7 linked regions of the Homo sapiens genome follow. The protein of the gene in region 3 purifies or fractionates together with the protein of the main gene of each other region. This does not show direct contact. Each region holds a gene or a part of one and is shown on either strand. Other genes may lie near its edges.

Region 1 (3,500 bases), on a different chromosome or scaffold from region 3:
TACTCCATGGATTGTGATCATAGCTAAATATTTAGCACAGTGGTATAGTGAAGTATGTCCTTTTTTAAAAAAAATTTCATATGCAACTGTATTTTCAGTTTCTTACAAAGGATTTCCTTGATGGGGAATGGGAGATTAATTTTTTTTCCTTATGGAGTTGTATGGTAGGGCAAATGGATGCTTTTAAATTTAAATCTAGCAGTTCCTCTTTTGATCCTGATAATTTTAATTAAAATGAAATTCAATAAATGTCATTATGAAACTGGCAGGGGGAATGAATGTAGATAAATGGTCACAGTGTCTGTTTTCTATCAAGTGAGCCTCTGATTTCACAGAGAAATATATTTGTTGATGAAATCTTATGTAGAGAATGGGGGACACTTTAGACTTTCAATTTCTGTATTTTGAATTTTAATAACTAGATTTTTAAAATTTTTAACCAATTTAGACAAATGGACGAATACCTAAAACGTATAAAGAAAAAGAGGACTTCAGAGATTTGATTAGACAAGGTAATATGGGATATGATTAAATACTGTATAAAGCTTGAAAAGCAAATTGCTAGAGGCAGGTACTTATTGGATTTCTGTTAACACCTTTGTCAGATGATAGCATCATGAGCTTTTATTTTCCTTCTGGAGAAGTTAAGAAGCCACGCCTTGTATAGTTTTAAGGACTAATGATAAGCCGTATTTCTTCTTAAGATTTAATATTCTGCAGGATCTGACAAGGTTATTTTTATAATGGGGGAACAGAAGAGTGAAAAGAAAAGGGCTGTTTGCTAACAATTTCCCATTACAATAGGAATTCTAAAAAATGAAAATGGGGCTCCAGAAGATGAAGAGAATTTTGAAGAAGCTATTAAAAATGTGAACACAGCACTAAATACAACTCAGGTAATGAAAGAGTTGCTGAGGGATTCACATGAACAAGATGTTTTCTAGAGTCCTTGGCTATTAAATGGTTGACTATAATGATTTAAGTTAATATTTTCTAAATGTATAGTTAGAAATAAATACAGGGCCGGGCATGCTGGCTCATCCCAGCACTTTGGGAGGCTGAGGCGGGTGGATCACCTGAGGTCAGGAGTTCGAGACCAGCCTGGCCAACATAGTGAAACCGCGTCTCTACTAAAAATACAAAAATTAGCTGGGCATGGTGAACATACCTGTAATCCCAGCTATTCGGGAGGCTGAGGCAGGAGAATCACTTGAACCCAGGAGGCAGAGGTTATAGTGAGCCAAGATTACACCACTGCACTCCAGCCTGGGCAACAGAGTAAGACTCCGCCTCAGATGCCTTTGGTTTTGTTATGGCTTAGTTGTTGAGGTCTGACCATTGAAGTTTTTGGGGAGCTTTGGAATAACACCTGGTAGTTTAAGTTAGAATTTTCTTGTAACTTAAAACAGCAAATATGCTGCCTTTCAAGTTAGGAAGGCACGTAAGATATTATTACCAACTTTTTAGAGACAACAAGGCAGTGTTGCTGAGTGATTAAAAGTGTGCTGGCTGGGGCCAGGCGCGGTGGCTCACACCTGTAATCCCAACACTTTTGGGAGGCCGAGGAGGGCAGATCACATGAAGTCAGGAGTCCAAGACGAGCCTGGCCAACATGGTGAAACCCCATCTCTATTAAAAATACAAAAAATTAGCTGGGCATGGTGGTGGGCACCTGTAATCCCAGCTGCTTGGGAGGCTGAGGCAGGAGAACCGCTTGAACCTGGGAGGTGGAGATTGCAGTGAGCTGAGATCTCATCAGTGTACTCCAGCCTGGGCAACAAGAGCGAGACTCTGTCTCAAAAAAAAAAAAAAAAGTGTTTGCTGGCCAGGTGTGGTGGCTCACACCTGTAATCCCAACACTTTGGGAGGCCAGGGCAGAAAGATTGCTTGAGCCCAGTTCAAGACCAGCCTGGACAACGTAGGGAGATCTTGTCTCTACAAAAAATTTAAAAATTAGATGGGTGTGGTGGCATGCACCTGTAGTCTCAGCTACTCTGGAGCCTAAGGTAGTGGGAGGATCGCTTGAGCCTGGGAGGTTGAGGCTGCAGTGAGCCATGATTGTGCCACTGCACTGCAGCCTGGGCAATGATATGAGACCCTGTGTCCAAAAAATAAATGTGCTTTGTGAATCACTTTTCTGGGGTGATGAACATTTTCTGTTTTAATTGGGGTTATGGTTAAAAATATGTATATATAGTTATCAAAATGCATTGAATTGGACATTTGAAATCTCTGTATTTCACTGAATATAAAACCACAGTTGAAAAGAAAAGATTCTAATAGTTGGGGGGCAGTAAGCTAAATAAACAGATAAAAATGCACCAGGTGCTGTGAACAAAATTACAGCAGAACAAAGGGTCAGAGAGCATGCTGGGGACAAGGGAATCCGGGGTTGAGAGACAATTGTACATAGGGAGCCAGGGAGACTTTCCAAAAGACATTTAAGCAGAAGCCTGAGTGAAGTGACACGCAGAGGTCTGGTGGAAGAGCTTTTCAGTTGGAGGGAGCACATGTGCAAAGGCCCAGAAGTGGGATGAAGCTTGACTTTTGTTCAAGCATCAGTAAGCAAGTCAGTGTGATTGGAGTGAAGTGTAAAAGGGGGAAAAGTGGTAGGAAGGATTTGAGTTTGGAGAGGCAGAAAGGGCCAGATCATAAAGGCCTTGCAGGCTATTTAAGCATTTCAGTCAGGGAAGTGGATTGAGCTGCTTTGTATTCTAAAAGACCATTCTGGCTTTCATGAGGAGAACACAATTGAGGGGACTGGGAGTGGAAGCAGAGAGAGCAGTTAGGAGGTCCCACTGAGACATTTCTTTTTTCCACCCATCAGTAGAATCCAAGCCTATGATTTGTGTGTGTGTGTGTGTGTATTTTTTTTTTTTTTTTTGAGACAGGGTCTCACATTGGTGCCCAGGGTAGAATGCAGTGACACAATCACTGCTCACTGCAGCCTTGACCTCCTGGGCTCAAGTGATCCCCCCACCTCAGCCTCCCAAGTAGCTGGGACCACAGGCACGTGCCACCACGCGCAGCTAATTTACTTTTATGTTTTCTATAGACGGGGTCTTCCTGTTTTGTTCAGGTTGGTCTCAAACTCCTGGGCTCAAATGACCCTCTCACCTTGGCCTCCTGAATGCTGGGATTATAGATATGAGCCATTGTGCTCAGCTTTATACTCTTGATTAACGTATGAAGATCTTGCTAGCAATAAAATTACTTTATGGTTTTAGTTTTTTTCAGAGTGGTTGTCTCAACGGTCACTAATTAGGGTGCAAGGGTTTCAGATTTTTGACAAGATGGAAAATCATGATATACTGCGAGTCTATAATCTGTTTTGTCTTCAGATGTAACTATATAAAATAATTTACTGGGGCCCCTTCTTTACCCCATTTATGGTATAAGAGAATAGGTATTAAATGGTAGCAACAGTGGGCCGGAGAGGTCTTTCTTCCATTCTTTCCCCATCAAATCTTCATATGGTACTGATTCTAAATAAAATTATA
Region 2 (3,500 bases), on a different chromosome or scaffold from region 3:
TCAAGACCAGCCTGACCAGCCTGGCCAACATGATGAAACCCCATCTCTACTAAAAATACAAAAAATTAGCCAGGCATAGTGGCAGGTGCCTGTAATCCCAGCTACTCAGGAGGCTGAGACAGAAGAATCACTTGAAACTGGGAGGCGGAGTTTGCAGTGAGCCGAGTCTGCGCCACTGCACTCCAGCCTGGGCGACAGAGTGAGACTCTATCTCAAAAACAAAAACAAAAACAAAACAAAAAAAAACTGAAATAAAATAACTGGATTGTTTGTAACACAAAGAATAAATGCTTGAGGTGATGAATACCCCATTTACAGGGATGTGATTATTACAGGTTGTATGGCTGTATCAAAAGATCTCATGTACCCTATAAATATATATACCTACCATGTACCCATACAAATTAAAAATTAAAAAAACTCCCTTCCTCTTGGGATAATGGATTAATAGATTGTGAAAAGCACAGATATTCCTGGATAGCCTCCAGTTCCATCCATATTGCTGCAAACGACGTGGTTTAGGATATGTAATTGCTCCTAGGATATGTAATTGCTCCCACAAATTCTGTATCTTGTGATCTAGCATTGTAGTAGAAACAGTATAACATTATGTTAAAACTGACTGATGAGAAATAAGCTGCTTAATTAAGCAAGAAAAACTGACCCTCTCAAGAACAAACCACTATGCTATGACTCTTACAATAGTTTCTTTAAAAAAAAAAAATTTTAGATTCGGGGGTACACACGCTTGTTTATTACATGGGAATGTTGTATAATGGTGGGGACTGGGCTTCTAGTGTACCTATTACCTACATAGTGAACATTATACCTGATAGAAAAATTTTCAACCCTCACCTCTTCTCCCACACTTCCCTGTTTTGTATCTATTGTTTCCATCTTTTTTTTTTTTTTTTTTTTTGAGATGGAGTCTTGCTCTGTCTCCAGGCTGGAGTACAGTGGTGCAATCTCAGCTCATTGCAACCTCTGTCTCCAGGGTTCAAGCAATTCTCCTGTCTCAGCCTCCAGAGTAGCTGGACTACAGACGTGTGCCACCATGCCCAGCTAATTTTTGTATTTTTAGTGGAGACAGGGTTTCACCATGTTGGCCAGGATGGTCTCGATCTCTTGACCTTGTGATCCGCCCGCCTCAGCCTCCCAAAGTGCTAGGATTACAGGCGTGAGCCACAGCACCCGGCCCTATTGTTTCCATCTTTATGTCCACATGTACCCACTGTTTAGCTCCCACTCATAAGTGAGAACATGCAATATCTGGTTTTCTGTTTCTGAGGCAGTTCACTCAGGATAATGGCCTCCAGTTCCATCCATATTGCTGCAAATGATGTGGTTTTATTCTTTTTTATGGCTGCATCTTACAATAGCTTCTTTGCTTTATTATCAACTTGGGCCTAAAGTACATTAAAACCTTAAGATCGACCTGTAAAGCAATTAAACTTCTGGGAATGAATCCTGAAGAAGTATCAGAGCTGGTTGTGGTGCTGCATGCCTGCAGTCCCAGCTACTCGGGGGGCTAATAAGGCGGAAGGATTGCTTGAGGCCAGAGCTGGAAGCTGCAGTGTACTATGACTGCATCTGTGAATAGCTACTGTACTCTAGCCTGGGCAACATAGCAAGACTGTCTCAAAAAGAATCACTATGATCTTGGCCATCAAATAAAAAAAAATCACATATGCATTTAAGAACATACTGAATATTTGCAAGAATGTTCATAGCAGTGTTACTTACAATAGAGGGAAAAAAATCAGGCTACATCCATCTGAGAGAATACAATACTCTTATTACTTTACCCCTCTATCCATAAAGGTTAAACATAAACTTCTTCTAATTAATAAGATAACAATAAAAATTCCTCAACTGTTTTCAGACTTTTCAACAACAAAGCTATGATACAAAATGAGCTGTAGCTTCTATCTTTTCTGGTTTCTCTTTAACCAGCTTTCTGACATCCTTTACTTTTTTCTTTGGGAGCTGTCTCAAATTCCTAAGAAAAGTGGAAAGACTAAGAATGCTGAAAAGACAAAGACAACCCTCATGATTCCCCCCAGTCCCTAGACTCTGCCGAGAGTAACCTTACAATCTCACAAGAGTGCGGGGAGGAAAGGAAGGGCAGTCAACAGCTCTACAGTGAAGGGGAAGCCACATCTCACCTGTTCCAGATATTAAGACAGCCACTCTGGCCTTTTTTTTTTCAAAAGAGAAATGATTTGTCAGGGAGCCATTCTTCAACACTGACCCATTTATTTGCATGCTTTCAATCAGATTCTTGACTTTCACACGTGGGGAACCTTCATTTCAAACATATCCATAAATAAGTAAAGAACAATTGTGAATTAACAAGAATAATGGAAAGAAAAATATTTTATGAAAACTTTAGGGTATGTTTTATCCTGAAAATAAGATAATGCAAGGACTAAAATGAACAACACATTTGTATCACTTAACACTACTCTTTCATAAAAACTTCCAAAAGGTGAACATATGTAATTACTTCAACTAAAAGCTGCAGATCACATCACTATCTTGAAGTGCACGGTGGATATATATGACTGCCTGCCAGTATTCTGCCCCTACTCCCCAAATCTTCCTAGCGAGACCACCCACAGTAGTGCCATGATCTCCTGGTCTCGGGGATAAGCATGTGACCTAGCAAAGCCATTTAAAGGCTTGATATGCGATGTTAAGAAAAAGAGGGTCTCTCTTTTTTTTCTTTTTGAGATGGAGTCTCGCTCTGTTGCCCAGGCTGGAGTGCAGTGGCGCGATCTCGGCTCACTGCAAGTTCCGCCTCCTAGGTTCACGCCATTCTCCTGCCTCAGCCTCCCGAGTAGCTGGGACTACAGGCGCCCGCCACCACGCCCGGCTAATGTTTTGTATTTATTAGTAGAGACGGGGTTTCACTGAGTTAGCCAGGATGGTCTTGATCTCCTGACCTCGTGATCCACCCGCTTCGGCCTCCCAAAGTGCTGGGATTACAGGCGTGAGCCACCACGCCCGGCTGGGTCTCTCTTTCTTATTGTAATGTGAGCTGAAGGATGTTATCTTTCCGGCATTTGGAGAACCCGCTTGAAAATGAATCCTACACAATAGAGGAAAGAAAGGCAGATACAGGTAAAGTCAACAAGGTCTGACATTTTTTTTTTCTATTTTTTATTTTTGTGAATCTTCTCTGTATCGTTCCAATTTTAGTATGTGTCCTGCCAAAGCAAGCATGTGACGTCTTTGTTAGTGAATCTGAGTGGATTTTCTGCCCCTCTGCCAAGTTCTAGCACTTCTCGCAGAGTCCTGACTGATACAGTACTTGTCAGGGTGCTTGCTCGCTATTCCTTGAATCGAGCTGAGTGACAGCAGAGCCATGAGGTCTTGTGTGTAGGGAGATTACTTTGGGAAGCGATCCTGTGGGGTGTGGCTGTGCATGCATGAATGCTTAGTTCTGAGGCAGAAATGAAGAGATACGTGGTATCGCTGGGGTGGGTGCTGTCATGTTA
Region 3 (3,500 bases):
CTTCAGTGATATGTGACATATGACTATTAATAATCTACAATTCAATAAAATTGATGGTTTGAGGTCAAAAAAAAAAAAAAGTTAAAATAAATGACCAATGCTGGGTGCACTGGCTCATGCCTGTAATCCCAGCACTTTGTGAGGTTAGGACAGAAGGATTGCTTGAGCTCAGGAGACCAGCCTGGGCAAGATGGCAACATCTCATCTCTACAAAAAATAAGAATTAAAAAATAGCTAGGGGTAGTGGCGCACACCTGCAGTCCCAGCTACTCAGGAGGCTGAAGTGGTAGGACCGCTTGAGGCCAGGAGTCGAAGGCTACAATGAGCTATGATCATGTCACTGTACTCTGGCCTGGGCAACAGAGCAAGACCCTGTCTCTATAAAAAATAAATAAATAAATAAATAAAACTAATGACCACAAAAATAACTATGGTTACTTGAAAGTCTTTTGTTTGCCCCAGTGTATAAATTACAGTTAAAATATCAACTCTCAGAAATTGAGATAAGGATCTGACATGGGTAGCTAAAAGTAGAAACAATTCCGCCAGGTACAAATGTTCTTCCTTCTTTCCTCTATTTCTATGGGTTGAATTCTAAGCAACAAGGACTTAAATGCACAGGTGTGTTTTCTGGTTTTAGTTCCTATAATGAACAGCCCCTAAGCTGTCTGCCCAACAGTCCATCTCTTTCTGAGCACAGCTGCTGGCAACCCTGCCCACAGCTACAAGAGAATAAAAGAGACCACAAATACCTGGGCAGCCGCCTCCTCCTCAACATCAGGAATGAAGCACTCATTCTACATGGACTTACAGAACTTCTTAGAACCTGACACCAGTAGACACAATCTCCCAGGAGTTTGTTACTACAGAGACTGGCAATCTGGGGTCTTCCAGGCCATAGGCTAATTCATATCCACCCACCTCCCTGTCACTTGTGGGCCAAATAATTTAACAAATGCCAAGAGATAAGCTCAGGACACCAGGTGAAGAAAAGGCTAGCAGAGACCTCAGAGATGAACCAGCTCCATCTTGTATTCTGAGGCTCGGGACACTAGGAAAGAAGTGTAATATCTTGCTTAACGTCACACAGTGAGAAATGTTTGGTATTTAATTGTGGCAGCGGTCACATACTGTGAAATTTGTGAAAACTGGTCAAACTGTACTTTAAAAAGGTGAATTCTACTGTATACAAATTATGCCTCAATGAACCTAACTTTTTAAAGATGAAGTTAACTCCTAGTCTAGCAGTCTTTCTACTCAGCAGATTCTTGATAAGACAACATAAGAAATAATGTGAAAATACCCTGCAGGCTGCAAAAATATAGGCTGGTGGGTGGCAGTACCGTAACTTACCTCCTCTTCCCTGGAAATAATACCAATGGGGGAAAAGGAAAGGAAATAATCCAGTTTTGTAACAGCTATTAGAGTCTCACTAATCCAAAATGTGCCAACCTATTCAAGGCAAGAAGCAGCACAACTACTTTGAGTACCTGGTTCCAAAGATATTTTCTGATCATCATTAGTTTTAACAGCCCACCAGGGTACTGAGGAAACACTGACAAACACAAAAGACAAACATTTGGCAAATATTCCCTTTCAAGCTGTCCAATATCTAAGGCAGACGGATGTTTAAATATCATTTCGTAAAACAACAGTCCCCCGAAGGCGAGTCCAACAGCCCACTTACCTGCCCGTTCTTGGCGTAGCACACAGAGTTAGACTGAGTGTACTTGACAGCAATGGTGGCTACGATGAGGTCTCGGAGGGCAGACTCTGGCAACTGAAACACATACACAATGGTAAATTGCATGGGGCCTTTTAAACTCATTTAACTTTAAGCTTCTTTTTTTAAATATTATTTTTTGTGGTTTTTTTGAGTCAGAGTCTCACTCTGTCTCCCAGGCACAATGGGACAATCTCCAACGGCACAATCTCGGCTCACTGTAACCTCCACCTCCCGGGTGCAAGAGATTCTCACACTTCAATTACAGGCGCATGCACCACCATGCCTGGCTAATTTTTGTATTTTTAGTAGAGATGGGGTTTCACCATGTTGGCCAGGCTGGTCTCGAACTCCTGAGCTCAAGTCATCTACGTGCCTCAGCCTCCCAGAGTGCCAGGATTACAACAGGTGTGAGCCACCACACCTGGCCAACTTTAAGTTTCTTAGTTCTATTTAATGTAAAAGACCTACAACATAGTTATACCACTCAAATGACAGAGGGAAATTAACTGTTCTCCTACACACTACCATGATTTACTTAAATATTTAACACATTTGGGGTGGAACTTAGCACAATGCATCCATAGACACAAACTCATGTTATTTTGTAGCAATTGTGGATTAAGCCTTTTTATATCACATGAGGTAAGAACTACCATATCCATTCCAAAACTGACAAACAATATTTTCTTGACCAGAGTACTTTTAAATATCTGGAGACATGGTAAAATTTACGTTCAGAACCAATGCGGAGAATTGTTTCATAGACATCACAAATCGTTATGATGCACACAGACAGCCAAGACTTTGGAAAAATCAAATTACGATCATTTTCTCTTTTGTTTAGAATAACTTAAGTTGAAACTGTTCAAAAACCATTAGGAATTACCAGTCCAAATAGAACAACAAGAATAACGCCCAAAAATATCACTATCTTTAGTATCAGGCATGAATACAAATGGAAAAGAAGGATGATAGTCCACGTCTGTATGCTAAATGGACAGAGGATATTTGCTACAGCCAACAGATAAGTTGATAAATTTGACTTCAGTAAAATTAAGAACTTTTCCTCTGTAAAAGATTCCTCATTAAAGAGGATGAAAAGACAAGCTACGAACTAGGAGAAAATTATTAACAAACCTCATATCCAACAACAAACTAGCACCTAAAACATAAAAAAACTTTAAAAACTCTGTAACAGGACAGGCGCAGTGGCACATGCCTGTAATCCTAGCACTTTGGGAGGCCAAGGCGGGTGGACCACCTGAGGTCAGAAGTTCCAGGCCAGCCTGACCAACATGGTGAACCCCATCTCTACTAAAAATATAAAAATTTGCCAGGTGTGGTGGCGCATTCCTGTAATCCCAGCTACTTGGGAAGCTGAGACAGGAGAACCACTTGAACCCGGGTGGTGGAGGCTGCAGTGAGACAAGATCATGCCACTGCACTCCAGTCTAGGTGACAGAGCGAGACTTCATCTCAAAACAAAACAAAAAAACTCAGTAACAATCAAAAATTTAATTAGAAAATGGGCAAAAGACAGACATTTTCACCAAAAAGGATACACATGTAGCAAATAAGTACACAAAAAAATGTTCAACATCATGAGCTATTATGCAAATTAAAATCAGTGAGAGATTGCTACACAACTATCCCATGTCTTTAAAAAAAAAAAAAAAGTAGCAATACCAAAAGCTAGTAAGGATGCAGAGACATTGGATCACTCATCCATTGCTGGTGGGAATACAAAATGGTACAAGCCACTCTGGAAAACAAT
Region 4 (2,857 bases), on a different chromosome or scaffold from region 3:
GATTCTCCTGCTTTGGCCTCCCAAAGCACTGGGATTATAGGCATGAGCCACTGCACCCAGCCTCAAAATAGTTAAAAAAATTAAACCCTTCTTTTAACTTCTATATCTACCTCCTTAATTGGCTATATTGCCCTAAGATATTCCATTATATTAACTTTAAAAAAAAAAAAACCTATATGTATTTTTGCATACCTTGCAATAATATCCCTCATCACAAATCTGCCTTAATCTTTATAACAGCTGTATCCTCGTTTGGATCTCAGGTACAGCCCCAACATGACAATTTATTGCTCATCTGTTCATTCCTACCCTTTTTCCTGTAAGTGCTCCATTTTCATAAAATCTTATTTTTCACTCTGATGATGGTTGCTATGCTTGTGGCCTTCCTGCAGGCTCTTGTGAGGACTGAATGTGAGGCTTTGCTTACCAGCTCTTTCTAAAATATATAAATAGCCCAGAGAGTCTTCTAAAATTGGGGGCTCAAATCCACAAATGACATGTTATTTGAAAATACTGGATTTAATAGAAAATATCACATTGTAAACAAATCCATTGATCCATGAGCTTAAAACAGAATGACGGCACAATCACATAGAAAAGCTAAAGACAAAACACTGGTACCAAACATAGCCCTTAGGCCTGGGCTAGGCTCTCAAAGGTCTTTCCCAGAAATGGAGGCAGCAGTAGCTTCAAACAGGCACAAAAACAGCCAGGAGGAGGCAGCATCCACTCCATGAAGGCCTAAGACAATGAAAGGAAGCCAGAGCAACAGACCACCTTGGGATCCGGGGAGAAGGGTAAATGGGCAAAAGGGTTGTATTTCCTGATGCTCTCAGAACATCAGACCACACCATGTGAATTTAAGCAGGACTATTTTAAGTGGGGAAACAATACTAGAAGCATTTGGTGTATTTTCCTGGCACTCACCTCCTAGGTAAGCAGGAGAGCGGGACACTCAGGAGTTGTGACTAAACTCACACTTAAGCTGCCTGCCCAGACCGTCCCCTTGGCTGAACACAACACTGAAATTGTGGCAGTGTCTGTTGCCCCAGTGGACCTCCCACTTACTAATGAGTATGTAAAACAGAGGAGCCACAGTGAGGCTTTCACAAAAACACAGGGCTCTGGGGGAAAAACGGCTTCCACCTTCTGCCTTTTGGTGCTGGAGAGTCCCTGAGGGAGAGAAGTTTGACGTGGCTGGGCCCCTTGAGGCTCTGGATTTATCAATAGAAGCCTCCTCTTTGGCCCCACCCACCCAAATCCACCCCCAGGTTCTCCTAGTTCAGAGAAAAGCTGTGAAAGTGGAAGAAGGAAGGGATCGTTTTCTTTCCATTGCACTTGTTACTGACCAAAGAGACTGCTTCCTTGCACTTATTTTAGATATTGAGAGTTTGTGCCTTCACTTGGAACAATGGTTCTCAACCAAGGGGCAGGCCTGTGCAAGAAGGACTCTCAAGACTCTTCAAAGAGGTGGTATCCAATATACATAAGCCCCTAATTCCCTCCCACTTGAAAATCAGTGCGTGTAAGGAGAGAAATTCCTGACGGGAGTGTGTCATATGTGTGAACCATGGCTGAAGCAGAACAAAAAGTTTAAAACTCCCAACCTGGGTTTGGCAGACATCAAAATGATGGAGTACATTTTGCAGATATTTTTTTTCTGATTAAGTTACAAACATTCTCCCTATAGCTAAACTCCGTGACTAGGCTCCCAGCCTCATGGCCAAGAACAATAAGTTCACCCACTTATCTGGAGTAACCATACTAGATTAAAGAAATACAATTCTTTCTTCTAAAGACAATTTCCAGAAAGACCTGCCTTTCCCTATGGGTACTTGACACTAGGTCCCAGCACAGGCTAATCGCTGTATGGTTTCTTCGAAGATTGGCTTTTCTCAGTTTCTTTCTCTTTGATACTGTACAAGGGGTCCACCAACTTGTTATGAACAAGCATTAAACCTACAAAAAATTAAAAACAAAAAGTAGTTAATTCAGGCAGTGGCAAGAGTTCCTTGATTATCAATCATAACATCCAGGAGCTCTCAAATTTTGTCTTAGAGCTGACACTTCTCTCTTTTCTCTATGATCCCCAAATGATAAACACCCTAAGAGTATAAAAAGAGTTATTCACAGTGAGTACTACATTCATGGAACTTTTATAAATTCAATCACTATGGGAGTTGGCTATTTAAAGGTTAGTCTTTTCAGCAAAGGACAAATTCCTAATTGACCTACTTGAGTAAAAGAGGATTTTCACATGTTTGCCTAAAGCAGTGTGCATCCTTTTAAAGTAAAAGAAGGGCTGGGCATCGTGGCTCACACCTATGATCCTAGCACTTTGGGAGGCCGAGGTGGGTGGATCACCTGAGGTCAGGAGTTTGAGACCAGCCTAGGCAACATGGCAAAACCCCGCCTCTACTAAAAATACAAAAATTAACTGGGTATAGTGGCGGGCACCTGTAATCCCAGCTACTTGGGAGACTGAGGCAAGGAGAATCACTTAAGCCCGGGAGGTGGAGGTTGCAGTGAGCTGAGATCACACCACTGCACTCCAGCCTGAGCGACAGAGTGAGACCCTGTCTCAAAAAGAAAGAAAGTAAATAAAAGAAAGGAATCGCTTGTTTAAGATTTGAAAAGAGAAAACCTGAGGCTTAATGGCACTGTGAGGTCACCACATAGTCCTTGGACCACATTGCGTTTTCTTTCCTCCTCCTCAGAGCAAACAGATCTCCAGAAATGGATCTTTGCAGTCACAGGCAGAAGAGAAATGACTGTGTAGTGTGATGCAGTTGGGTTTGATATTTCTTAAGATTACAGTTGTCAATTAAAATGACCAGAGGATGAAAGCTGGATCTAC
Region 5 (3,500 bases), on a different chromosome or scaffold from region 3:
ATTCTTGTTAGCTTCCTAGGATCGTGATACAACTGCAATTGCTGAAATAATTTACTTAAAGACAGATAATTAATTCCAATATGGAAACTTCAAAACTGAAATATTAATTAATAACTAGAAATACTCAATTTAATTAGAATCAAAGTCATTCACCAAGAATAAGGTCATATAGCAATATGAAATGCCTCCACATTAGTCTGTTATTTTAGAATTAATTTAAAAGACAATTTTTCTATCAACATAAAACAGTTCAAAAGAACAAGGATCAAGAAAAACTAAACTCAACATTGTTGTGGTGAAAGAATTAGCTTTCTGGTGACACGCACGCACACAAACATACACACCTTTAAGTTGTGAGTACTCAGCTTAACAGATACAGTGTCCAAAACAAACGTTTGCTTCCATGAACTGACTTATACAAGGATAGTAGTATTGATTTTTGTTTCCTAAACTAATCACTGAAATCTGGAAATCTGTGAGGTTAAGTAGCCCTTCTTATGCTGTTCTACTACTATATGCCTTCACTAGGCTCCTCCTACAGTGCAAGAATACCAGGGCTTACAGAAGACATTTTACTTATTGTGCAATGCTCACAAATAGCTGAAAAAGGCAAGGACATGGTGGATAAAAGCTATCTTCTTTGATAAACAGAAAAATCAAACAAAAATTCCAAGGAAAGGTCAGAAAATATGTCGGCATCCAAGTTGAACTACTGGGTAGAGAGGCATCTGGGGATGAGTGAGGAGACAGGGAAAGTGGGGCCGAAGACCCCTTGCCACTGCACTCTATGTCCTCCCCTTGAAAACTCTGTATGCTCCAGTATTTTCTATTCGAGGTGGAGGTGGGGAATGCAGAGCAGCTAAGCACTACTGCTACCTCTTCAACTGGTTGGAACTTTCAGCCATTAGGGCTCATTCACATCTTTCCATATTCAGTTTTAGCCTTCAAAGAAGTTCTTGACTTTAAAAATGTGTTTATACATTAATCCAGTATCCTGAGGATAGACATGAAGATTTATTATTCATGAAAACACTAATCACAAAATTTATTATAATAATGAATTGAAAACAACTTTAATGTCAGCAATAGGGAAATGGTCAAATAAACATGGTGTAGCCATGTGATTAATCAATATTATGCACTCATAATATTTAATGATCTCATAATTTCATGTTTCATAAAATGCAAGATTTTGTATAAGTAAATAAAAATTTATAGAAATGCACTTTGGGATAGACAATTATTTATATACCTACAGAAAATAAAAGGAAACACACGGAAATGCTAAGAATTGTTATCTCTGGGTAATAGTACAAGTGGTTTTTGTTTTCCTTTTACTTTTATAATCAAAACTGAAACCCACAATGTTATTTTTTCAGAAGATGTGATAAACACTAAGTTTCTAAAACTAGAAAATCATAAGTGGAGCATGTGATAAATCTCACAATTAGTTTGACATGTACCAAAGAGGGCATGTTAAAAAGAAAATAGAGAGTCTAAGAAAAACTGAAGTTTCTAAACCCTAAAAGCAGTCACATTATGAACTAAACTAAGCAAACCCTTCTTGCCTGCACATTTGAAAATAATAATGTGAATTATTTTTCATGCCTAATATTGCTCCAAAAGGTCAGGCCCTCAAATCTCTTGCTATGATTGTGACAGCAGCTTCCTTTGGTCTTCCTGCCTTACCCTCTAGCAGGGGCAAAGAACATAATAAAAAAGGAAGAAAAAAAAGTATTGCTCACTTAAACTGAAAATGCTGATGGAAACCCGCCACTATTTTCTTTTGGTTCCATCAAAGAATGTTTCAACAGAAAACACCAAATCAAGACAAAGCTTCATTACCAAGGACAATTATATCATAACTCTCAGAACTAACAGAATGAATATGTCCTGGTAAAACAACTCCGATAAGCAAGAATCTAGCTAAACATAAACAATTCCATGTTTTGTCATCCTAATATAAATGGCTTTCAGACTGTAGAAAATGCATGTGCAGCATTTGTCAAAATAACAACACTCAACAGTATTGAAAACGTCTATACAAAAATCAAAGCTTTCTCAGAGTTGGTTAGCAGAGTTAATAGCTAAGAAAGAAAATATTTGAAGTACAAACCAAAAGAAGAAAACATGTTTTCAGACAATCTATGAAAAGAGTTTAAAAAAAAAAATGAAGAGGCAGAACTATCTTAATGCTAGCTATTGAAGGGACTGACTTCAGTGCCAGTTTCGTGTGATCTTGAGAACAATAAGGAAGGAGCAATGGGAGGATTAAAAAGTCTAGTGAGATCAGGCGATTTAAACATAAGCGTTAATGGAAAACCTGATGAGAAAATGATGACTAAAATGAGCTGGTTAGGACAAACATAAAAATAAAAGATCCCTTACTAAAGATGGCAGAGTTTTCCTCCTGAAGTTAGAAATGGGTAATAAAGAATAAAGGACAAAGGAAAAGCCTCAGGGCAAAGCAATGGGCAGATGTAAGTATCCTCAGGCAAGATCAAGATGGAAGAGAGGTAGCTAAGAACAACCCGGACTTCTCCATGGCACTATGAATAGTTCTCATGCCCCACCACTTGCTACAACCAGAAATCCAGACGTTTGAGGCTTCTCTAATTGGTACTTGTCTTTAGTCATTAACAGAAAAATAGACACTAGGAAATGTTGTTATTGATCTGAACTTTGTTTTAAAAGATTGCTTTCTCTGCACTGCACTCTTCCTACTTTATAACTGAAAACTTATTTTAAAGCTTAGAGAAGGATAAGAATTCATCCCTTGGTGACAATGTGTTTGTGATTGCTTGGCAAACATTATATCTCAGGTAAGAGAAAAGAGGAGCTGCAAGGCAATAACGTCCTCATTTTTTATTTTATTTTAGTGACAACCTCAATCTGTTATAGACACAAAAATGGACCCAACCCTAAATGGTGTTAGCGAAAAATTATACACACCTGCAAAACTCTGTGTACGATACAAAGTAAGGGCTGTTGAGGGGGAGGAAGAGGGAGACTCACATTCCAGGCTTTCTTCCTGACTCATTTTAAGTTTCAAAAAAGTTTAGGAGGAAACTTCTTTTGCCAAAAAGAAAAGAAAAAAAACAGACAACAAGCAATAATGTCTAGAATCATGAGAAACATTAACTCCAAAAGAGAGGGAAAAAAAAAAAAAGCAGCTGTGGAAGTCTAGAAAAATAAAAGGGGGAGACAATAAGCAATAAGAGAAGTTACAAGTTAAATGCAGAGGTGCTCTGGATGTTAAAATGAAGTAAAATGAGTAAAATGAAGAGGAAATGTGAGTAAGACCTCACGTTCAATAGATAAATAGGATAACTATAGTTAAAAATCTATTGTACCTCTCAAAGTTGCTAGAAGAGAATAATTTGAATGTGCTTAGCATAAAGAATAGATAAATATGGTAATGAATATCCCAATTACCCTGATTTTACCTTTATGTTATACGAATATGTCAAATTATCACAGGTACCCTGAAAACATACAGG
Region 6 (3,500 bases), on a different chromosome or scaffold from region 3:
CAGAGGGCTGAGTAGGTACCTCAGGCCGGGGCCAGAGTGCTGTGAAGACAGGCAGCAGCCCAGACCAAGCTTCTCTGTGTTCCGTGTCCTGGTCTAGAACCAGCGATGTTCTTTCTGACCAGTGCTTTTTGGAAGGTGGCTGAGGTCTGGGCTCAGGTCTGGGCCATACTAGAAGCTGGGATCCCTTCTATAGAGCACTTGGTATGGCTTGTATGGTCTTGGGGCAAGCCAGACCCAAGCCCTCTTATCCCATTTTAGAAAGGGCTTCAATTTGGATCCAGCCCCAGGTCTGCCTTAGCTCTGTATTCTTGGGGTATTTTGTTCTGTATTGGCCTATCTTGACTAACAATGAACCTTGGATTTGAAACATATCATCAGAAACCTCAGAAGACAACATTCTTAAACTGGCTAGAGCCTGGTCTGAATGGATGAAAAGGAGAGACTTTTGAAGCAATATGTAAAAGATTGAGAAATGATTTGTTGGAAATTTCTCAATTGGAGAAATTTCTTTGATTTGTTGGAAATTTCTTTGATTCTTTCTCAATCAAAGAAAATCGGGACAAACTCAACAATAGAAAGGGAGGAAGCAAGATACTCAGAAATAAAATGCATTCCCCTGTTTCAACTTAATGCTTCAATTCAGGATTCTAAGGAATCCTTGCCAGGAATGTCAGACTCACCTTGATAGTTGGAGTTACTCCATTGGTGACTCGATCAAATACAGGAGTTGAGGCACCTGCACTGTAAAATACTGATTAGTCTGATCATTAGGAATATCCTGTATGCCAGGTAGAAGATACATTGAACAGATTGCATGTAGGCATTAAATTCATTTTGGGGTATTACATATAGACAACACATTTCATTAAGAAACATAAAACTGTCAGATCGGTGGAATACTTAAAAGCACTTGGAGGTGTTTAGCCTAAAAAGCTTAGTTGAGGGGAATGGAAGAAAAGATCTGGGAGGGTGGTTCCAAAGAAGGGATCAGACTGTCCTAAAGCCCTCAGGAATCTGGGCTGGGACCAGCCTACTTAAAGATAGGATGGGCAGCTGGGTGTGGTGGCTCACGCCTGTAATCCCAGCACTTCGGGAGGCCGAAGTGGGCGGATCACCTGAGGTCAGGAGTTCGAGGCCAGCCTGACCAACATGGAGAAACACTGTCTCTACTAAAAATACAAAATTAGCTGGGTGTAGTGGCGCATGCCTGTAATCCCAGCTACTCGGGAGGCTGAGGCAGGGGAATCGCTTGAACCTGGGAGGTGGAGGGTGCCGTGAGCCACGATCGCGCCATTGCACTCCAGCCTGGGCAACAAGAGCGAAACTCTCAAAAAACAAAAAAAAGGATGGGTTCCATATGGGTGGTGTCAAGTGCCCACCTCCTAGCAAGTCAGCAGGGGCCAGAGGCCCTTGTAAGTGGTGTCTCGGGGGGATCAACTGAGATGGCTTAGGATTTACCTGGATGCCTGCTCTGCTCTCCCCATCTCTTCCAGGGATCCACAAATGCTAAAGAGCTGTCTTCCAAGGGAGTGAAAATCTGGGATGCCAATGGATCCCGAGACTTTTTGGACAGCCTGGGATTCTCCACCAGAGAAGAAGGGGACTTGGGCCCAGTTTATGGCTTCCAGTGGAGGCATTTTGGGGCAGAATACAGAGATATGGAATCAGGTGAGGAGATAGAACAATGCCTTCCATTTCCCGGGTGCCCTTCCTAGCATGTGTTTGCTCCGTTGTTTTAGATAAGGTCTGGGGGATGAGTCAATGTCACAGGAGCTGATGTATAGCTTTGACCTTGTGAGGGGTGGTGCCAGGTTAAGCCACAATTAAGCCTCATGAAGGCCGTTTCACACTCTTTTTTTTTTTTTTTTTTAATTATTATACTTTAAGTTTTAGGGTACATGTGCACAATGTGCAGGTTAGTTACATATGTATACATGTGCCATGCTGGTGCGCTGCACCCACTAACTCATGATCTAGCATCAGGTATATCTCCCAATGCTATCCCTCCCCCCTCCTCCCACCCCACAACAGTCCCCAGAGTGTGATGTTCCCCTTCCTGTGTCCATATGTTCTCGTTGTTCAATTCCCACCTATGAGTGAGAATATGCAGTGTTTGGTTTTTTGTTCTTGCGATAGTTTACTGAGAATGATGATTTCCAATTTCATCCACGTCCCTACAAAGGACATGAACTCATCATTTTTTATGGCTGCATAGTATTCCATGGTGTATATGTGCCACATTTTCTTAATCCAGTCTATCATTGTTGGACATTTGGGTTGGTTCCAAGTCTTTGCTATTGTGAATAGTGCCACAATAAACATACGTGTGCATGTGTCTTTATAGCAGCATGATTTAATAGTCCTTTGGGTATATACCCAGTAATGGGAGGGCTGGGTCAAATGGTATTTCTAGTTCTAGATCCCTGAGGAATCGCCACACTGACTTCCACAATGGTTGAACTAGTTTACAGTCCCACCAACAGTATAAAAGTGTTCCTATTTCTCCACATCCTCTCCAGCACCTGTTGTTTCCTGACTTTTTAATGATTGCCATTCTAACTGGTGTGAGATGGTGTCTCATTGTGGTTTTGATTTGCATTTCTCTGATGGCCAGTGATGGTGAGCATTTTTTCATGTGTTTTTTGGCTGCATAAATGTCTTCTTTTGAGAAGTGTCTGTTCATGTCCTTCGCCCACTTTTTGATGGGGTTGTTTGTTTTTTTCTTATAAATTTGTTTGAGTTCATTGTAGATTCTGGATATTAGCTCTTTGTCAGATGAGTAGGTTGCAAAAATTTTCTCCCATTTTGTGGGTTGCCTGTTCACTCTGATGGTAGTTTCTTTTGCTGTGCAGAAGCTCTTTAGTTTAATTAGATCCCATTTGTCAATTTTGTCTTTTGTTGCCATTGCTTTTGGTGTTTTAGACATGAAGTCCTTGCCCATGCCTATGTCCTGAATGGTAATGCCTAGGTTTTCTTCTAGGGTTTTTATGGTTTTAGGTCTAACGTTTAAGTCTTTAATCCATCTTGAATTGATTTTTGTATAAGGTGTAAGGAAGGGATCCAGTTTCAGCTTTTTACATATGGCTAGCCAGTTTTCCCAGCACCATTTATTAAATAGGGAATCCTTTCCCCATTGCTTGTTTTTCTCAGGTTTGTCAAAGATCAGATAGTTGTAGATATGCGGTGTTATTTCTGAGGGCTCTGTTCTGTTCCATTGATCTATATGTCTGTTTTGGTACCAGTACCATACTGTTTTGGTTACTGTAGCCTTGTAGTATAGTTTGAAGTCAGGTAGTGTGATGTCTCCAGCTTTGTTCTTTTGGCTTAGGATTGACTTGGCGATGTGGGCTCTTTTTTGGTTCCATATGAACTTTAAAGTAGTTTTTTCCAATTCTGTGAAGAAAGTCATTGGTAGCTTGATGGGGATGGCATTGAATCTATAAATTACCTTGGGCAGTATGGCCATTTTCACGATATTGATTCTTCCTACCCATGAGCAT
Region 7 (3,500 bases), on a different chromosome or scaffold from region 3:
AGTAAAAGATTTGCAGCAAGTTAACCATTTTAAGATAAGAAGACGTAAATAACATAACTTTTTTCCACTTCCTGCTGGCAGCAGAAGAGCTAAGTAACAGAGAGAGCCTCCTTCACCTGTAACTCCTCTTCAGGAGGCAGGGAGCCACGGGAAAGGTGACCACGCTCCCTTCCCCACTCTAGCAAAGCTACTTCATGTGGATGGGCCTCTTTTGATATCCCTGGGCCTGAGCCCGGCCACGCTCTGCAGCTCACGCACTACACAACAGCGGCCAGAAGGTGGCGCCGGGGAGGCATCCACTCCCGACCGCCTTTTGCTAAATCGCGCAAAAGCATGGTCTGGACAAAGCATCTCTCAGCTCCATTGTTCCCAGAGGCAGCTGGCCACTGCCTTTTGAGTTTATGTCCTTTTGTGTTGTCCTAAGTCAATATTTAAAGGCGTTTTTAACTCTAAAAGTAGTTGAAAATACCACAATGAGGAACCATTAACCCAAGAAGGAATCATTAGTATAACTTTATGATCCACTTCAGATGGTCCCAGGCCTAACGATGGTTCCACTTTCATTTTTTGACTTTACAATGGTGCACAAGCGACACTCATTCAGTAGAAACTGTTCCCCAAGTACCCAGACAACCATTCTGTTTTTCACTTTCAGTACAGAATTCAATAAACTGCATGAGACATTCAAGACTTTATTATAAAATAGGCCTTGCGTTAGATGATTTTGCCCAACTGTAGCCTGATGCAGGTGTTTCGGGTCGGCCAGGTGAGGCTATGATGCTTGGTAGGTGAGGTGGATTAAATGCATTTTCGACTTGAGATATTTTCCATTTATGATGGGTTTATCAAGACTTAGCCCCATTGTAAGTAGAGGAGCATCTGCATTATTTTTAAAGGCTATATTTCCTATGTGTCTTTTTTGTTTTCGTTTATCTATTGGTCTGAATGCTTCTATATCATGAATTTAGCAAGCAGTTTCTATATACAGATATAATGTTATTTCATTGCTGTAGTAACTTTGGTTTGTTTTGGCCAAAAATGTATAAATTGCTATTTCGATTTTAGAGTGTGTTTTCCTTGGCTTTCTTTCCTTTTTTTTTTTTATTTTTTATTTTAAGAGACAAGGTCTCACTCCCTGTCATCCAGGTTGGAGTGCAGTGGTGCATTCACAGCTCACTGCAGCCTCAAACTTCTGGGCTCAAGTGATTCTCCTGCCTCAGCCTCCTGAGAGGCTGGGACCACAGGCATGTGCCAGTACACCCAAGTAATTTTTTTCTTTTTCTTTTGACAGAGTCTCACTCTGTTGCCTGGGTTGGAGTGCAGTGGCACAATCTTGGTTCACAGCAACCTCCACCTCCCGGGTTCAAGCGATTCTCCTGCCTCAGCCTCCTGAATATCTGGGACTACAGGCGCCCACCACCACGCCCAGCTAATTTTTGTATTTTTAGTAGAGACGGGGTTTCACCATATTGGCCAGGCTGGTCTCGAACTATTGACCTCATGAGCCACCCACCTCGGCCTCCCAAAGTGCTGGGATTATAGGCGTGAGCCACCACGCCCAGCCTTAAAATTTTTTATAGAGACAAGGTCTCTCTATGTTGCTTAGGCTGGTCTCGAACTCCTGGGCTCAAGCCATCTGCCCATCTTGGACTCCCAAAGTGCTAGGATTACAGGCGTGAGTCATCGCATCTGGCTGCCTTTGCTTTCTTTCTTAGTGTGTGTGCATGTTTGTGTACAGTTAGAGCAATTTGTATCTTGGAAAAATCAGTCTTTCTTTCTTTCTTTCTCTTTCTTTTTCTTTTTTTTTTTTTTTGAGACAGGGTCTTGCTCTGTCACCCAGGCTGGAGTGCAGCGGCATGATCATGGCTCACTGCAGCCTTGACCTTCTTGGGCTCAAGCGATTTTCCCACCTCAGCCTCCGGAGTAGCTAGGACTACAGGTGCACGTGACCACGCCCAGCTAATTTTTGTATTTTTTGTAGAGACAGGGTTTTGCCATGTTGTCCAGGCTGGTCTCGAACTCCTGAGCTCAAGTGATCTGCCTGCCTAAGCCTCCCAAAGTGTTGGGATTACAGGCATTAGCCACCACCAGAAAAATATTTTCATAGATGTTGCTCATAAAAATCTTGTGTGATATTGATCATCATTACATTAAAAAAACAAAAAAAGCTATCCCCTTCATCCTAGGTGAAGAAATGGAGAATTTAGATTAGGTGGCTTTCCCAAAGTCACACCACTGGGACCCAGACCTCTTGACTCCCGGTGACATCCTCTGGTTAACTGCATGACAAACCTCCACCTCTATTTTCAGATTCTTAAAACCCATTTCCATAAGATGGGCAGTCTTCACATTATTGGGGGTTGTGTTACACTGGATGGGGAGGCTTGTGATTGTTGTCACTCTTCCACCCCTCCCTTCTGCATGGAGTAAAAATGCACAAGGCAGATTTACCATAGACGGACACCCCTGCCCTGAATTCTGAGTATTTCATCATCAAATGATGGACAGCAGTTCCACCCCAGCAGAATCCCACGATGCCAATTTTCTGGGCATGACACTGTTGTTTCAGATACTTCAAGATAGCACTGATCTCTCTAGAACAGAAAGAAAAAATATTCAAGAATCAGGCTTATTTTGTGAACCCCTCAAAGAGCTGTGCTGATGATAACAGGGCTGTATCAGCAACTGTTTTTGAAGTTGCCAAGGTTTCTTCTTTTGGGAGCTCCACCCTTACTACCTCTGGCCCAACTGATGCATCATCCCAGCACATCTTCCTGCCAAGCCCAGCCCTCCTCCAACTGCCTGACAGCTGCAGGCAAGCTGGGCTCTTCCCAAAACATAGGTCCAACTGCCTCACTCCCAGCTGAGAGCTGAGCAGTCTTCCACAGCCTGGGGATGAAGGCCACAGCCCACAGCACGGTTCGTAAGACCCGAGTCCATGATCTGCTCCCTGCAGAGTGCCCCAGTCTTCTCTGTCCCCTGAGTCTCCCAGGAGAAGAGTCTCCTCTCTCCTCTCTCCCATGAGCAGCCATAACTATGGGCAGACGCCCAGACACTCTCTGACTTCACACGTTCACTCTCTCCCCAAAACTCCCCACTCTGCATTGCTCGTCTCCTCCCCCTGCCGCCCAGTGAAGCCAAATTTGGAACGCCATCAGGACTATTTCAGCCATGAGGGGACCAAGAATAGTGGCCCTTGTCTGGCAAATGATTCATGTGCAAACTGATTGTTTGGAACTCAGAATACATTTTCAACTAGAAGCAATGTACCAAAGTGGAGGTGGGCTGCACACGTATGTTTATTGTAGCACGATTGCAAAGATATGCAACCGAAGCGCCCATTGACCAATGAGTGGATAAAGAAAATGTGGCCTATATACACCATAGACTATACTCAGCCATAAGAAAGAACAAAATAATATCTTTTGCAGCAACTTGGATGGAGCTGGAGGTCATTTCTCTAAGGGAAGTAACTCAGGAATGGAAAACCAAATACTGTA

The links.
Region 1: the proteins of ATIC (region 3) and NAE1 fractionate together in Homo sapiens (co-fractionation; one large-scale study listed by BioGRID). This does not show direct contact.
Region 2: the proteins of ATIC (region 3) and GART fractionate together in Homo sapiens (co-fractionation; one large-scale study listed by BioGRID). This does not show direct contact.
Region 4: the proteins of ATIC (region 3) and GNPDA1 fractionate together in Homo sapiens (co-fractionation; one large-scale study listed by BioGRID). This does not show direct contact.
Region 5: the proteins of ATIC (region 3) and OXCT1 fractionate together in Homo sapiens (co-fractionation; one large-scale study listed by BioGRID). This does not show direct contact.
Region 6: the proteins of ATIC (region 3) and TYMS fractionate together in Homo sapiens (co-fractionation; one large-scale study listed by BioGRID). This does not show direct contact.
Region 7: the proteins of ATIC (region 3) and CMBL purify together in Homo sapiens (affinity purification with mass spectrometry; one large-scale study listed by BioGRID and IntAct). This does not show direct contact.

The regions. Positions count from the first base shown.
Region 1 is NC_000016.10:66,813,977-66,817,476, reverse strand, and holds part of NAE1 (NEDD8-activating enzyme E1 regulatory subunit), read left to right. Parts: coding exon 1-52; intron 53-448; coding exon 449-512; intron 513-804; coding exon 805-896; intron 897-3,500. UniProt on the Homo sapiens protein: Regulatory subunit of the dimeric UBA3-NAE1 E1 enzyme. E1 activates NEDD8 by first adenylating its C-terminal glycine residue with ATP, thereafter linking this residue to the side chain of the catalytic cysteine, yielding a NEDD8-UBA3 thioester and free AMP.
Region 2 is NC_000021.9:33,507,618-33,511,117, forward strand, and holds part of GART (trifunctional purine biosynthetic protein adenosine-3), read right to left. Parts: intron 2,304-3,500; coding exon 2,166-2,303; intron 1-2,165. UniProt on the Homo sapiens protein: Trifunctional enzyme that catalyzes three distinct reactions as part of the 'de novo' inosine monophosphate biosynthetic pathway.
Region 3 is NC_000002.12:215,343,059-215,346,558, reverse strand, and holds part of ATIC (bifunctional purine biosynthesis protein ATIC), read right to left. Parts: intron 1,781-3,500; coding exon 1,688-1,780; intron 1-1,687. UniProt on the Homo sapiens protein: Bifunctional enzyme that catalyzes the last two steps of purine biosynthesis.
Region 4 is NC_000005.10:142,000,171-142,003,027, forward strand, and holds the end of GNPDA1 (glucosamine-6-phosphate deaminase 1), read right to left. Parts: intron 1,960-2,857; coding exon 1,859-1,959; 3' UTR 501-1,858; downstream 1-500. UniProt on the Homo sapiens protein: Catalyzes the reversible conversion of alpha-D-glucosamine 6-phosphate (GlcN-6P) into beta-D-fructose 6-phosphate (Fru-6P) and ammonium ion, a regulatory reaction step in de novo uridine diphosphate-N-acetyl-alpha-D-glucosamine (UDP-GlcNAc) biosynthesis via hexosamine pathway.
Region 5 is NC_000005.10:41,807,926-41,811,425, forward strand, and holds part of OXCT1 (succinyl-CoA:3-ketoacid coenzyme A transferase 1, mitochondrial isoform 3 precursor), read right to left. Parts: intron 1-3,500. UniProt on the Homo sapiens protein: Key enzyme for ketone body catabolism.
Region 6 is NC_000018.10:660,653-664,152, forward strand, and holds part of TYMS (thymidylate synthase), read left to right. Parts: intron 1-1,493; coding exon 1,494-1,668; intron 1,669-2,333; exon of another isoform or gene 2,334-2,353; coding exon of another isoform or gene 2,354-3,500. Other genes in the region: ENOSF1 (mitochondrial enolase superfamily member 1), read right to left, coding at 2,354-3,500. UniProt on the Homo sapiens protein: Catalyzes the reductive methylation of 2'-deoxyuridine 5'-monophosphate (dUMP) to thymidine 5'-monophosphate (dTMP), using the cosubstrate, 5,10- methylenetetrahydrofolate (CH2H4folate) as a 1-carbon donor and reductant and contributes to the de novo mitochondrial thymidylate biosynthesis pathway.
Region 7 is NC_000005.10:10,283,903-10,287,402, forward strand, and holds part of CMBL (carboxymethylenebutenolidase homolog), read right to left. Parts: intron 2,595-3,500; coding exon 2,452-2,594; intron 1-2,451. UniProt on the Homo sapiens protein: Cysteine hydrolase. Can convert the prodrug olmesartan medoxomil into its pharmacologically active metabolite olmerstatan, an angiotensin receptor blocker, in liver and intestine. May also activate beta-lactam antibiotics faropenem medoxomil and lenampicillin.